Linked DNA regions of Homo sapiens: region 2 is linked to region 1. The links come from fine-mapping of genetic effects on gene expression. Tissue or cell type: thyroid. Region 1 holds a variant in brackets; the other region holds the start of a gene. All regions are shown on one strand. Distances are between the middles of the regions.

Evidence for each region. PIP is the estimated chance that this variant, and not a neighbour inherited with it, causes the effect.
Region 2: SNUPN starts here. The variant in region 1 is fine-mapped to the expression of SNUPN in thyroid (GTEx, PIP above 0.99). The same link has a PIP of 0.9 or more in lung and subcutaneous fat.

Annotation. Positions count from the first base shown.
Region 1 is chr15:74,781,231-74,789,152 of GRCh38, reverse strand. CSK (C-terminal Src kinase) reads right to left here and starts at 7,073. Exons shown (of 13, transcript NM_004383.3): 1 at 6,433-7,073. It overlaps MIR4513 (microRNA 4513), which reads left to right and starts at 396; the gene lies at 396-481. RefSeq lists enhancers at 1,466-1,685, 1,756-1,945, 4,714-4,773, 4,784-4,913, 5,796-6,371 and 5 more and silencers at 1,176-1,353, 6,604-6,863, 6,974-7,193. The variant A/G (reference allele first, on the strand shown) is at 4,433.
Region 2 is chr15:75,621,873-75,629,794 of GRCh38, reverse strand. SNUPN (snurportin 1) reads left to right here and starts at 4,070. Exons shown (of 9, transcript NM_005701.4): 1 at 4,070-4,129. RefSeq lists an enhancer at 3,702-3,891 and a silencer at 4,542-4,591.

The DNA.
Region 1 (7,922 bases):
TTATAGCAACACACTGGCTTTTTTTCCCCTGCCCCCAATGGTTCAGTGGGACCGGAAATCCCGTCTAGTGGTTTGGGAGAGGTGGGGGCTGGGGTTAGAGCAGGCTAATGGGGAGCCTACTCCCCAGGCACCGCTGCGGCTTGAGGCTGCCATTCCTGGCCCAGAAAGGTTTCTAATTACCGCTCAGGAGCCTAATTACCTATGTGCGCTGGGCAATGGGGACTCTGGGCCTCCCCAGGGCCCTAACCCAGGCCTCTGCTCCCCCACCCCCTTAGCACAGGATGTGGTCTTTGCATCTTCATTTGCCTGCATTTGCATATAGCCTCTCAGCACTAGCCTTCAATGGACCCTTCAAAGTCATGTTCTTGTCCCTCACCCGGAAGTCTCCTGGCCACATTCTAGGTGGGGAGACTGACGGCTGGAGGCCCATAAGCTGTCTAAAACTTCGGCCCCCAGATTTCTGGTCTCCCCACTTCAGAACCAGGATCTGCAGAACACACAGCTCAGAAGGTAAAGCTGTGGGGATCAACACAAAGGACAGACTTGCTACTACTTAAGGGAGATGGGGGTGTTACCAGTACACTCCTCCAGCAGGATGGGCTGCAGAATGAGAACACGGGAATTACAGCTGACTGACCCAACCGGGTTTGGGGCACTGCATTAGTTACTTAATCCTTCAAACACCCCATAGGGCAAGGACTGGTGATCTCTGACAGAGGAGGAACTAGCTGTGTGGGTACTTGAGCTCAGAGTTGTCTGAACCTTGGTTAGGGGACCTTTCTTCCCACCTTTCCTTGTGCAGGACAGACGACACCCTGAAAATGGACAGGTGGGGGGCACCGAGGGGAGGTCTGCCCAGAGCTTGGCTGTTCTGCTCTGGGAAGCAGAGGTACTTCTGTGCCCACTTCTTGCTTGTCTGCATACCCCAGCCTCTCAGAGAGGCCAAGAGCCTGTCGAGGGACACACAGAAAAGAGCCAGCAGCCCTAGAGAGGGCAGAAGCTTCAAACAAGGACCTCTCCTCCTACCACGCTTCTTCTTCAAACACTTCTCAACTTTCACAGGACCTTCCCCTCCAGGAGGCCCTCCAGGCTGCCCCAGCCCACGCAGAGCCCCAGCTTCAGAGCTCCTACCAGCTCTGCCAGGAAGTGAGAACCACAGGCCTCCCCTCACTGACTCCTCGTCTCCTCTACCCGCCAGCAGAGGCGCTCTCAGGGTTTGCTCTTCATCCTTCCCTCCTGTCTCCCTGCAGCACGGACAGCACAAGCTGCAGATAGATAGATGCGCGAGTCTGCATGAGGACCAGGTGTCAGGCTGGGCTGAGAAGCAGCAGCCAGGGTCCAAGGGGGGCAGATGATGCCCAGGTTTTCGCCTGCCCACGAGGCTTACAACCATGCCATGATCAGGACAGCCAGGGGGGCACCAAGCAGCCTCTCTTCTACTTGTTCCTTCGACTCTGGGCCCAGACCACAGAAGGAGGGGTGGAGGGAAGCTGCGGTTGGAGGGTGTGTGCACAGCTAGTGTGTGATGAGAAGCTGACTTCATCTTAGCACCTCAAAACCAGGAAGAGAAACTGAGCAGGCAGAAAGGGCAGGCTGGGCTGCACAGGGCCCTCCAGTCCCTGGGGGCCTGCTGAGGGGAGCTCTCAAATAGTCGCTTGACAAACCACTTCTCCTTTCTGGGCCTCAGTTTCCCCATGGGAAAAATGGGATTTTTTTTCTAATGGGTCCTGCCAGTCTGCCCTGAGTGGTGCCGTCTACACTTAATGGGCCACATCATGGCAGATAAAAGAGCACCCCCCCAACTGGTGGAGTACTTCTGATCCCGAGGAGCAGGGGCTCAGCCACCCAAAGCCAGCCTCTCCCTGCTCACTTCTCCCCTCAGCCATGCAGGGAGCACCAGCTCTTCCTTCACCAGCTCTTTATTTTTAGGTCTGAATTTGACTTTAATCATTACTTAGCGGATTCTATTTCCAGCCCTTGGATGAAGGGACCCAGAGGAGAGGGGGAAGGGAGGCAGTGCTCCCTGCCGGGCGTTGGGGGTGGCCTGCTCCTCCACCCATCCTGTCCCCAACCAAGGGCGGGGGAAACTGAGAAACACCCAAAGGGCTCTCATCTGAGCCAGGCCAGGCCAGCATCTTGGGGCGGACCCCACCCTGTGACCTCATCCCATCCCAAGCTGTGGGACAGGAGGGCAGTTGTCATGCCCACTTCCCTTACACTAAGACCAGGGAGGAGGAGATACTCCACAGGCCAAAGTTTGGCAGCTGGAGTCTGAAGTCGTGTGCCCAAGGGACCTCTGCACTGAATGGGCCACCTGGGGGAGGACCCCTTCCTTAGGTTAGTCCTGGGCCACCCTAGGGTCATCTGGGGCTACAGTCTCTTAGGCCCAGGGTTGCCAGGAGGAGACTGGTGTCCTGCTACTGCCCACGGGGTGGCTGTAGGAGGGCACTCCCAGTTACCCTGGTCTCCACAAAAGTAGAACAAGAGGAAGCAGGTGTGTCACAGTGATACACACTCAGGTTAGACCTGGGGAACACCTGCTGAGGAGGGGGAGGCTAACATGAGTTTCCCGATGTGTCCAACTCCCTCCTGGGAAGCTCTGGGAGGCTCCAGAATCCCCCTACCCTTAATCTCCCAGCTTCTTTCCCTTCCTTGGCTACTGGAACAGGGTGCGAAGATGAGGCTGGCATGGCTGTTCTTGGGCTGGGGCTCAGGATGCCTGGGTTCCTTGTCTAAGTCTCAGGCTAAGCAGGCCTCTATTTCCTCTGGGAAAATGCCAAGCTGGGCTGACCTAGCCAGAGCTGGGAGGCAGGAGGCAGCCAGGCTCTTACAGAAGAGGCGCAGTGGCTCACGCCTATAATCCCAGCACTTCAGGAGGCCGAGGTGGGTGGATCACCTGAGGTCAGGAGTTTGAGACCAGCCTGACCAACACGGAGAAACCCCATCGCTACTAAAAATACAAAATTAGCCAGGCGTGATGGCACATGCCTCTAATCCCAACTTGGAAGGCTGAGGCAGGAGAATCGCTTAAACCGGGAGCCGGAGGTTGTGGTGAGCCAAGATCGCGCCATTGCACTCCAGACTGGGCAACAAGAGCAAAACTCCATCTCACACACACACACACACACACACACACACAAAAAAAAAAAAGAGAGAGAGAGAGAGAGAAGAGGCCTTGTCTATTTAGCTCTGATGCTGGGAGACCGGAAGGGGAATGGGTGGAGTCAGGTCCCGGACCCTAACCAGCAGCCCATCTTCCCAGGGCCAGCCCCATGTCCTAGGCCAGCCAATCATATGGTAATGGGGAGAAGGGAAGGCAGGCAAGGGCACTGGCCATAGTATTCTAGAACCTCAGGGCCAGGGGGTTTCACAGGGGCTCCTCAGGCGGAGACCACCTCTTTGCCAGGTGAGTGGTCAGTCAACATTGGCCCGTGGCTCAGGCACCTTCCCCACAGGTTGAGGCAGCCAGCAGTGGGCACTCCTTCAACAATGCCAATCCTACTCACAGAGGGAGTGAAGAAAGGGCTGTGCCAGGCACTTTAGAGTCCCTTGGTTAGTTAGTTGACACTGTCCTTACACCTTCCTCTGAAGTAGGTGTTACCATCCTGTTATTTATATCAACGAGGCTCAGCAGGTCAGTGACCTGTCTAAGGTCCCTCTACCCTGGGCCTAAGTGGCATGTCTGGGCCTGGAACCCACATTCAGTTGGGTGCCAAGTTGCTTGTGCCCTCCAACACCCTGGCTGCTTTTGGGACTCATAGTAACGACAACCACAACAGCAACAGAGGGGAAAAATGCACACGCTCCAGTGTATGGGTGATGGCGCTGCAGCAGGCCAGCCTAGAATGTTCTGTAGCTTTTTAGAAGCAACGTTACTTAGACCGCGTAGCACCATGAGAAAATGCCCACAGACGCAGTATTAAATGAAAAAAGGTGTCACGGCACACACACTCCAGTGACAACGACAATGAAGGAAAAGGATGGGGAAAAGACTGGCAGTGAACTCCAAAATGCTAACACAGTCACTGCCTGCTGAAGAAATAGTGGGTGATTTTTGTTTCATTTTCTAAATTTCCTGTAGCGCTGTTTTGTTATTTTCTAAATCAAGAAAATGAGTACATTCATGGTTTCCCTATAATGAGCTCAGATTCACTTCCCTGGGACCCACCTGCTCCCTAGCTCTGGCCCACGTGTCTGGGACAATTTCTGCCATGGGATGCCTTTCTCATTTGGGACAGTCCCTCAGACATATGAGAATCTGTCCCTACTTTCTCTTTCCCAGACTCAGTCAACATCCCTGGCTCTTTGAAGATGACCTGTCAAGGTTTTAAAATCCTTCAAAAGATGGAGCCCAGAACCGCACCCAGGTGGGTCTGCCCCCTTTGGGGGGCAGCCATGTCACACTGTGGATCCTGGGTCTCAACCCCTACCT[A/G]TACTTGTTTGGAGGAAGCTGCATTCTGTCCCCGAAATTTCCAACCCTTGCCGAGGGCCACTCTGTGTGGCTCAGCCTTTTGGGGTCTGGCCCCCCTGCGGTGGTGAATGGGAACATTTTCTGCTTTTTCCTTGCCCCTGACCCAATGCAGAGAGAAGAGCAGCTGCTTCTGAGAGGGTGGAGGGCACCAAGCTCACCAATGAAAAGCACATCCCTGCACACGTGCCAGCCAGAAGCCAGACTCCTTTCTTCAAAGGCCCTGGGACCCTGGATCACACCTTCACAGCTCACAGTTGGTAAAAAAATAAAATAAAATAAAATAAAAATTAAAAAGGCTGACTGGGGTGGGAGGGAGCTAACCATGTCAGGCTCCAGCCCCAGTCCCTCAGGCTGGAAAGGAAGTTAGGGCTGGGTGTGGGGCCATGTGAGGGGAGTCTCACAGGCCCAGGACATCTGGGTCCCCTCCACTGTGCATGTCAGGACAGCCAGAAAAAAAAGTGAAAAAACAAAAAAACCCTAAATCGTGAGCAGGGACCCAGCAGGACAAAACTGCCAGCAGCTCCAAGGGAGCCCAGACACTGCTCAGCACCCACCAGGGCAATGCCTGCTCTCCTGGGCCAGAGGATCCTGCCAGGCCTCAACCTCACCCCTGCTGTCCTTGCCCTGTTCCTGCTGTGGCCACAACCAAGAAAGACACTGGAACCGCCAGGGTACTAGGAGCTTGAAACAGGCCCCCTGGGTGTCCCCACTCTCACAATGCTCCCATGTCCCCAGTCTGTAGCCTGCTGCCAGTGGAGACAGAGCTTCCACGGTTCCCATGTGACCCCATTTATATCCTGAACTTGGCTGCTCCTGTGCCAGCTGGGCCATAGGTGTGGCGAGTGCTGGGTCAGGACTGACCACCAGGTTGTTTCAACTCAGAGCCGGGGCCAGGACCGGACCTTCCTGCCACACCACACAGATGGCCATACACCACACATTCCCCACATCTCCTGCTAGCTGACCCAGCCACAGCTGGAGCCGGAAGCCCTTTCACTCCCTCCAGCCCTCTGCAGGGAAGCACGTGCTCAACCAACAAGGTCCCTCTGGGGCCGGGCTGGGGGCCTGTGTCCCCAGTGGGTGAAGGTGCCTGCCTGGTTTCCTTCCACCCACAGCCATCCAGCCCTGTATAGCTGGGGATGAAAGGACAGCCAGCCTAACTCCACTAGAGGCCTGGGGTAGCAACTTCTCCCTTTGAGCCTCGGTTCCCGGGTGTACAAAATGGGCGGGGAAGTGAACTGGTAGTTAAGCTCCAAAAAATCTGCTGGCTGGACACACCCCTTCCTGACACCTGGTCTGGGCCACAAAGAGCCTAGGAGAATGGGCTGCCCAGGGTGCCAGAAGGTGGGGGCATGGTGCTAATGCTCCGTTACCTCCCCCCGGGCAGAAGGCCTGCCCAGTTTCCCACCCAAAGATCCCTTGGCTTAGGCCTGGTCTTCTGAGAGGCCAAGGGTGACAGGCTCAGTCCTAGGACCTGGGCTTCTAACTGCTCACCCGAGGTGGCTGGGCCCTGGGCTTGCTTGCAGCCCGCAGGGTCATGGTGGGGTAATGAGGGAGGGGTCAGAACCAAGCAAGCCAGGGCACCTGCGGGGAGGCCCTGTACAGGGAAGGGCAGGGGAGTCCAGCACTCTCTCTAGGGACCTGGCCCATACGGATCCTCTTCCTCCAGACTCCAGCCACCTCCTACTCTGAGCTCCACAGAGGGGGGGACTCGGGATGACCCGAGAAGACGAGTCCGTGGAGCTGCAGGGCAGTACCTCCCTCATGCACTCCCTTCCAATTTGGGTTCTGACAGTGGCTCCTGGGAGAATTCGAACCCGTGCAAGGGAGTAAAGGAGAGAAGGGAGAAGTGGGAGAAGAGGGGAATGGGAGTGGACGCGACAGTGGCAGCAACAGAGACTAGACGCGCGACCTCCACCCTCTTCCCTCCAGGGGACACTCCGGGACGGCCAGGCACTCACCTCTCTTGGGGCACTGCGGTCCGGGCCACCTCGCCGCGGGCGGCATCAGCGGCCTGCGGGACGGTCCATGCGGTCAGGGGGGAGGGGAGGGGCGCAGGGGTCCCCAGGGGGTGCGGTACAAAGAGGTATGGGTGCAAGGAGAGGGGAGGAGGGACCGCCAGGCAGAGGCAGGGGGACGGACGCACGGCCCGGGTCGCGGAGGGAAGAAAGGCGGGGGAAGGGGGCGGGAGGGAGTCGGGGGGAGGAAACAATGTAGCCGGCGCGGCCCCGGCAGAGTTCCGCTTCCGAGCGCCGCCACTGAGGTTCGATTTTGGAACGTCGCGCTGGCTGCCGGGGGCCGCCCCGGACGCTCGATCGGGGCCGCGGGGCTCCTCGCGCTCCACGCCCCGCGGGCTCCGGCGGCCAGAGGCTGGCTGGGGCGGGAGGGACGGCGGGCCGGGTTACGGCCCCGACGGCGGCGCAGCCGGGCGGTCGCCCGGCTCGGACCCCACCCCGGCAGAAGCCCCCGGGCAAGGCGCGGGTGGGGCAGGAGCGGGAGGGCGGCAGCGGGCTCGGCGGCGGCGGCGGCCAACCTCGGCTCGCCCAGGGCTCCGCTGGGAGGAAGCTCGCAGGCCTGGCGAGAGGAAGCGCGGCCCGGATCCTCCGCCCGCGGCAGCGCGCCTGCGCGAGGGGGCCTGCCCGGCGCGCGGCGGGGCGTGGGCCGGCGGGGCGGCGCCCCCTGCCGGGCGCCGGGGGCACTGCGGGGGGTGTGTCCGCGCCCACGCCCTGCCCCCACTTGCCGCCTGGCTGCGTTGAAGGCTCCGAGGGTCTCTCCTCAGCCGGCCTGGGAGCAACCTCCCAGCCTTCTCTGGACGCAGCTTTCCCGCTGCAGAAGCGCTGGGGGCCGGGCCTGGGCCCCTCTCCTCAGGTCTGTTTGTGGAGAGTGGGCCTGATTCGCAGCAGAAAGCCTTCATTCATTCATTCACCAACATTTCCTGGCGCTGACATCGTGGCGGAGCCTGCTCTGGAGTCTATTGGCAAGACCATTTCACTACCGTCAAGGCGTTCTCGGTCGGGTGGGGGTAGGCTGACAGGCCGACAGACAACGGCAAGGAAATAATTGATCAAAGTGGAGAGGTGGTGGACACGGTTCCCAGGAGGCAGAAAGAAAACTAGGGCTAACGGGGAGACCTCACACCTCACAGAGCCGGGACCAGGCAGAGGGAACAGCATGCACAAGGGCGGGGAGTGCGGAGGGAGCTTGGTGGCTTCTGGGATCTAAATATAGCTCAGGCGGCTGCCGCTTGCAGTGTGGGTGGGGGAGAGTGGTGGGAGATGGGTTCCTGCAAACAACAGGGGCAAAAGAGATCCAAAGAGCCTCATGGGACTTTCTTGGAGTTTATGTTCAGCCTGGAGGCAATAAAGAAGTTGTCAGCAGCTCTGTGACCTTGGGCAAGTTACTTAACCTCTCTGTGCTTTAGTTTCCCCATTTGGTAAAATAGGTGATATAT
Region 2 (7,922 bases), 840 kb before region 1:
GGGCGGATCACCTGAGGTCAGGAATTCGAGACCAGCCTGGCCAACATGGTGAAACCCCGTGTCTACTAAAAATATAAAAATTAGCCAGGCATGGTGGCGCATGCCTGTAATCCCAGCTACTTGGGAGGCTGAGGCAGGATTGCTTGAACCTGGGAGACGGAGGTTGGAGTGAGCAGAGATCGCACCACTGCACTCCGGCCTGGGCGACAGAGCAAGATATGTCTCAAAAACAAAAACAACCCCCACGCACCCCCCAAAAAAATAAACCCTCTTCAGCAGTGGAGGTAAAATCCAAACTCCCCACCGTGGCCTGAGGCCCTTACCTGCCCCTGTGTCCCAGCAGCCTCTGTGATCTTACCTCCCTCCATTTCCCCTCTGGGCTGGACACCTTCCTGCTCTCAACCTTCTCTTTTCTAAGTAAGGATTCTCCTGCCCATGGGCAACCAGAAGATTTTAAGGGGTACACAGATTCCACTTTAATGACATTGAATAATAGAGTGAGAAAGTGGTTCTTCCCTCTTCTGTCCTCTTTGAATTTTTCTGATTACGTCAAAGAAAAATTCTGTTAGTGTGACTCCTTATCACTTCAACACTTGCTAATCTCTGATTTTTACAAAGTCCCCAGACTTACAGCTTTCTGCAGACATCCATATCTATCTAGCAAGATTATATTAGGTTGGTGCCATTAATTTTAATGGCAAAAACTGCAATTACTTTTTTTTTTTTTTTGAGAAGTAGTTTCACTCTTGTTGCCCAGGCTAGAGTGCAATGGCGCCATCTTGGCTCACCACAACCTCTGCCTCCTGGGTTCAAGCGATTCTCCTGCCTCAGCCTCCTGAGTACCTGAGATTACAGGCATGTGCCACCACGCCCGGCTAATTTTATATTTTTAGTAGAGACGGGGTTTCTCCATGTTGGTCAGGCTGGTCTCAAACTCCCGACCTCAGGTGATTTGCCCGCCTCGGCCTCCCAAAGTGCTGGGATTACAGGCGTGAGTCACTGCGCCCGGCCAAAAACTGCAATTACTTTTGCACCAGCCTATAACATTATTTTCACGTATTTATTTATTTACTTATTTTTGAGATGGAGTTTCGCTCTTGTTGCCCAGGCTGGAGTGCAATGGCGCGATCTCGGCTCACTGCAACCACCGCTTCCTGGGTTCAAGCAATTCTCTTGCCTCAGCCTCCCGAGTAGCTGGGATTACAGGCATGCACCACCATGCCCAGCTAATTTTGTATTTTTAGTAGAGACAGGGTTTCTCCATGTTGGTCAGGCTGGTCTCGAACTCCTGACCTCAGGTGATCTGTCTGCCTCAGCCTCCCAAAGTGCTAGGATTATAGGCATGAGCAATGTATTTATTTTATAGATACCTTCTAATAAAGTGGGAAGTGATTGATGTAAGGTAATGCTATGATGTTGCCCTTTTTTTTTTTTTTTTTGAGACAGAGTCTTGCTCTGACACCAGGCTGGAGTGCAGTAGCGCGATCTCGGCTCACTGCAACCTCCGCCTCCCAGGTTCAAGTGATTCTCCTGCCTCAGCCTCCCGAGCAGCTGGGACTACAGGCATGCGCCACCATGCCCAGATAATTTTTGTATTTTTAGTAGAGATGGGGTTTCACCATGTTGGCCAGGATGGTCTGGATCTCTTGACCTTGTGATCTGCCCGCCTTGGCCTCCCAAAGTGCTAGGATTACAGGCATGAGCCACCACACCTGGCCAATGTTGCCCTTTTAAATAAATGTAGTCAGGCTTTTTTCTTAAATTAATTGATTTAAAGACATAAAGCACAGTGTGTGCATGTGGCCAACATTCTGAAGCTGAGATTCCAGAGGTAGCCCCTTCTGAAACACCCACTGGCTCTAAATGAACCCCTGGGCCAGGTGCTCTGGTTTTTGTTTGTTTTGAGACAGAGTCTCCAGGCTGAGTGCAGTGGCAGGATCACAGCTCACTGCAGCCATGACTTCCTGGGCTCAAGTGATCCTCCCACCTCAGCCTTCCAAGTAGTTGGGATCATGACTCATACCACTACACCTAGCTAATTTTTTTTTTGTGGAGATGGGTTTTTGTCATGTTGCCCAGGCTGGTCTCAAACTCATGGGCTACTTCCACCTTGGCCTCTCAAAGTGGTGGGATTACAGGCATGAGCCACAGTGCCTGACCTGGTTTTGTTTTGTTTTTTCAGTGATATGGGAAGTTATTCAGCTAGGTGTGAGTGAGGAACTAGAACATTTCTCCTGGACCTCCAGGCATGAATTTGGGAACTTCTTTCTCAGTCTCAGTCTATTTTCCTAAAATGTTTAAGGTCTTTATTCTTTTCTATGCAGCCCGACCATTAGATGTGACCTCCGTGGTTGTAAGGGATGGTTGTTTGGACACAAAATACCTAATATCCTGGGTGTCAAAATTCCCTAGTGAAGTCAGGCCCTGGACTTCTCTTTTTTGTCAGTCTCATAAATCAGGCAGACATGAGCTTTTATTTGTGGATGCACCAAATAAATACCCTAGTGGACAGCTTTGCTCAGCCTGGCCACTGAAAGAGCCACCTAAATAAAATCTCAGGTCCAGGCCGGGTGCGGTGGCTCACGCCTTTAATCCCAGCACTTTGGGAGGCCGAGGCGGGCAGATCATGAGGTCAGGAGATCGAGACCATCCTGGCTAACACAGTGAAACCCCGTCTCTACTAAAAATACAAAAAAATTAGCCGGGCATGGTGGCAGGCGCCTGTAGTCCCAGCTACTCAGTAGGCTGAGGCAGGAGAATGGCGTGAACCCGGGAGGCGGAGCTTGCAGTGAGCGGAGATTGCGCCACTGCACTCCAGAGCCTGGGCGACAGAGCGAGACTCCATCTCAAAAAAATAAAAAAAAATCTCACGTCCAGAAAAATTGGCCTTCCAGGGCCCCAGAACCCTTTTTACCAGTCTAGTAATAGCCTTTCATCAGCCTAATTTCCTATTCTTTTTAGTCTGAATGTATGGTGTAATGTGCATAAAATACACAAGTCCAAATTTTAGCATTCCGTGGACGCAAAATGTGCCAAAGGTGGATACTTTGCTTCTGTCATACATCGGTAGTCAACTTCCCTATACATCAAACTTTCAGCAAATTCAAACATTTTCCTTGAAAGCTGTGTTACTTTGGCCAAATTACTTAACCTCTCTGAGCTTCAGTGTGTCTACTTCCTCATGTCATGATTAAGAGTTAATATCTACTGGCTTAAAAAAGAAAAAAAAGGAAAAAAATTAAATGAGATGATGGGTGTGAAGCAGGGATTGGCTGAATGTAAGCATTCAATAAATATTCAGTTTTAAAATTGTAATCTCAGCCTTCCCGCCCTGCAGAGGCTACACCCTGGCAGGACTTAATCTCCTAAATCTCTGCCGCTTACCCTAGTCTTTTGCACCAATTTAATCATTCCTTCACGCAGGGTCTACTGAGCGCCATCCCTTGTGCTGGACTCTGGCTACTTAAATAGGAATCAAGCCAGGTCCCTACCATTGCTCAGCCCGCAGCCGAGTGGGAAAGAAGCTCGCAAAAGCAGCAAACAGGCAGTAATCGAGGTATGTATCTGCTTTTGTTAAGGGCAAGTGGGGGAGCGAAGGTCTGTGTCTGAAACTTGGGTGTGAGGGGTTAGTTGGAGTAATCCAGGCAATTGGCACTGCCCGTTTAAGAGCACGGGCCCAAGAGGGGAAGGGGACTCCAGGTGAAGCCCTAAGGCCCGGGAAGATCTGCGGGAGGCGGCAGGGCCCAGGGCGTTGAATGCCCGGCCACAAGATCAGCCTCCTCCCATTGGCGAAAGGAGCCCCGAAGAGCTTGTGTTCAGGAGGGAGGCCTCGGCCTGGTCAAGTCATCTAGCAGGAAGAGTCCCGGACAGTGCAAAGCAAATGCAAGAAGACCCCCTCCCTAGCCGATGGGAAATGCCCCAGCCGTTGAAGGCGGAAATAACGGCCTGTAGGCAACGGAACTCCCAGCGTTCGCAAAGGAGGGAGGAGCCGGAAACTCAGGGCGCGAGGCCTGTGGGCCCAGCGGTGAGGCAGCAGCTGGGGGCGGGGGGAGGGCGGACCTAGCTTCCCAGGGCAGGTGATTCGTCGGCCCCGGTGGCGGCGGCGCGTGCGACGGTCACCTCGGTTTGGGTGAGTCCCTGGGTTCGAGCCCGGGCCCCGCCAGCTGCCGAGTTGCCTCTCGGTGCCGGACTGTGACTCCCTCTGGCCGGCCCTGCACTCTGGCCTCCTGGGACGTCATCTGGAGGGATAGAGCCAGGCCTGGGACTCCTTTTGGGAGAGTTTCCGTTCTTCTATTCCGTGCTGTCCGGCCAGGACCCCTCAGGGACTTCTGTGGGGCAGGGGCGAATCATGCATGGCCTAGATGACCCCATGCCTAGAAAAAGGCAGTGCGGGGCGGTGGCGGCGCGCACGGCCGAGTGAAGCAGATAGCGTCCCCGGGGCTGGAGCCCGGTAGCAGGGGTAGGGAAACGCGGAGGCTGCCAGGATGCGGACCCAGGGGACGCGAGGCGGGGGCGCCGGATGGGGAGACGCGAAGGAGGGGGAAGGGGATGGGGGAGGGGGCTAGACAGGGAGGGAGGGTGGAGCGTGGGCGGGGCCTGGGGCGGGTCGGACTTTAGGGAGTTGGAGCGGGGGTTACTGGTGCTAAGACCACCTGGGGCTAAGGTCCGAACACTTGGAGGCAGCACCATCCAAGGAATGGGTTGAAACAGCAGGAGCCCGGCGGGGCGCAGTGGCTCACGCCTGTAATCCCAGCACTTTGGGAGGCCGAGGTGGGCGGATCACCTGAGGTCAGGAGTTTGAGACCAGCCTGACCAACATGGTGAAACCCCATCTGTACTAAAAATACAAAAAAAATTAGCCGGGCGTTGTGGCGCGTGCCTGTAATCCCAGCTACTCGGGAGGCTGAGGCAGGAGAATCGCTTGAATCCGGGAGATGGAGGTTGCAGTGAGCCGAGATCATGCCACTGCACTCCAGCCTGGGCAACAAGAGCGAAACTCTGTCTCAAAAAAAAAACAACAACAACAAAGAAAAAACAAAACGAAACAGCAGGAACCCGCCAAGAACAGCCTTGAAGGAAGGTAAAGGAACCGCCCCAGTATCCAGGACATCAGTTTTTCTTTTTTTTTTCTTTTTGAGACGAAGTCCAGGCTGGAGTGCAGTGGCACGATCTCGACTCACTGCAAGCTCCGCCTTACGGGTTCAAGCCATTCTCCTGCCTCAGCCTCCCGAGCATCTGGGACTACAGGCGCCCGTCACCATGCCTGGCTAATTTTTTTGTATTTTTTTTTTTTTTTTTAGTAGAGACGGGGTTTCACTGTGTTAGCCAGGATGGTCTCGATCTCCTAACCTCAGGTGATCTGCCCGCTTCAACCTCCCAAAGTGCTGGGATTACAGGCGTGAGCCACCGCGCCAGGCCCAGGACATCAGTTTCAAAGGTTGTGTGGTTCTTGGCAGAGCGGGAGCCCACACCAAGATAGTGCATGATAGGCCTAATAAAGGTGCTTTGGATTTGGTCATTACTTTGGTGATGAACTGAAAACATAATGACTTTTTAAAAATTTTTATCGGCCGGGCGCGGTGGCTCACGCCTGTAATCCCAGCACTTTGGGAGGCCGAGGCGGGCGGATCACGAGGTCAGGAGATCGAGACCATCCCGGCTAAAACGGTGAAACCCCGTCTCTACTGAAAATACAAAAAATTAGCCGGGCGTAGTGGCGGGCGCCTGTAGTCCCAGCTACTTGGGAGGCTGAGGCAGGAGAATGGCGTGAACCCGGGAGGCGGAGCTTGCAGTGAGCCGAGATCCCGCCACTGCACTCCAGCCTGGGCGACAGAGCGAGACTCCGTCTCAAAAAAAAAAAAAAAAAAAATTTTATCATGAAAGCTTTCAAACTTACACAAAAGTACAGAAAAGTAGAGACAATAGCATACATACCATTATGGATGATTTGAATAACATACCATATGGATCCCAAGCACTCATCATGAGGCCTCAGTCACTCAGGAATGGCAACCCTTGGTTGCATTGCAAAGATATTAAGGCACACCTCAAGCCGGGTGCAGTGGCTCATGCTTGTAATTCCAGCACTTTGGGAGGCTGAGGCAGGCAGATCACTTCAGGTCAGGAGTTTCAGACCAGCCACGCCAACATAATGAAACCTCTTCTCTACTAAAAATACAAAAATTAGCCGAGCATGGTGGTGCATGTCTATAATCCCAGCTACTCAGGAGGCTGAGGCAGGAGAGTTACTTGAACCCAGGAGGTGGAGGCTGCAGTGAGCCGAGATCACACCACTGTAGTCCAGCCTGGGAGACAAAGTGAGACCCTGTCTCAAAAAAAAAAAAAAGGCCGGGCGTGGTGGCTCACACCTGTAATCCCAGCACTTTGGGAGGCCAAGGTGGGCAGATCAGGAGGTCGGGAGATCGAGACCATCCTGGCTAACACGGTGAAACCCCGTCTCTACTAAAAAATACAAAAACAAAATTAGCCGGGCGTGGTGGCGGGCGCCTGTAATCCCAGCTACGCGGGAGGCTGAGGCAGGAGAATCACTTGAACCTGGGAGGCGGAGGTTGTGGTGAGCCAAGATCGTGCCATTGTGCTCCAGCCTGGGCAACAAGAGTGAAACTCTGTCTCAAAAAAAAAAAAGTTTCTTTTATGTTTAAAGGTTACAGAGGTTCAGTTATTCAAGATAAAAGGAGTTCTGGAGAGTTCTGCACAGCAGTGTTGAACATACTTAACTTTACAGAACTGTACACCTACAAATGGTTAAGATGATGAATTTCATGATATGTGTATTTAGCCACAATTTTTTTTTCTTTTTACAGACAAGGTCTTGCTATATTGCCCAGGCTGGCTTCGAACTCCTGGGCTCAAGCATACCTCCTGCCTCAGCCTCCAGAGTAGCTGGGACTAAAGGCAAGCACAACTGCACCTGGCAAACCACGATTTTTAAGTTCCTTTTAAATTAAACAAAATCTAATGTTTCAAATCAAGAAAAATATCTGACTTCACTTGTGCAATGGAAAGTAACTCACTGGCCAAGTAGAGGCCTATGGAGTTGTATTTTTCACTGTAGAGGCTCTGGAATGAACCTGTTGATTTTGATGCTCAGAGCACTGGACCTGGCCTGGGATGGAGGTTAAGCACTGGAGGTGCCCTCTGGTTTACACTAGAACCAAAGGGCTGGGCCAGCCCAGCAGTGCAAGTCAGATTTCTCCCAAATGTTCCTGTTTTCTTATAATCTAAGGCTCACAGGCGCTTGAATGAAGTGTGAATTCACCTTTCTCCCCACTCCCATTCTTTAGGGTCCACCTAAAGTGGGAAGTCTGTTTTCAAAATGACATCTACTCCATGCCTGTCTTGTTTCCCTAATGTACTTTATGGAAGTTCTTCACACTACTGGAGCATTGACGTTACTTGTTAAGCAGCCTTCCACATCCTAGCTCTTTTCCAAGTGAGTCCCACATAAGTAGCCCTGAAACCTTCTTTCTGCCCACCCAAAAACAAAACACAACTAGAATATGAGGAAGTAACAATCAGATTTTTTAAAAAATAAATTATAATTTAAAATAATTTTTTACTTTTTTATTTAAAAAGTAGAGACATAGTCTCACTACATTGTCCAGGTTGGTCTTGAACTACTGGCCTCAAGTGATCCTCCTGCCTTGGCCTCCCAAAGTGCTGGGATTACAGGCATGAGCCACCTGTAATCCCAGGTCGCTAGAGTTTGTTTTTTTGTTTGTTTGTTTGTTTGTTTTTTGAGATGAAGTCTTGCTGTGTCGCCCAGGCTGGAGTGCAGTGGCACGATCTCGGCTCACTGCAACCTCCGCCTCCCAGGTTCAAGCGATTCTTCTGCCTCAGCCTCCCGAGTAGCTGGGATTACAGGCGCCTGCCACCACATCCAGCTAGTTTTTGTATTTTTA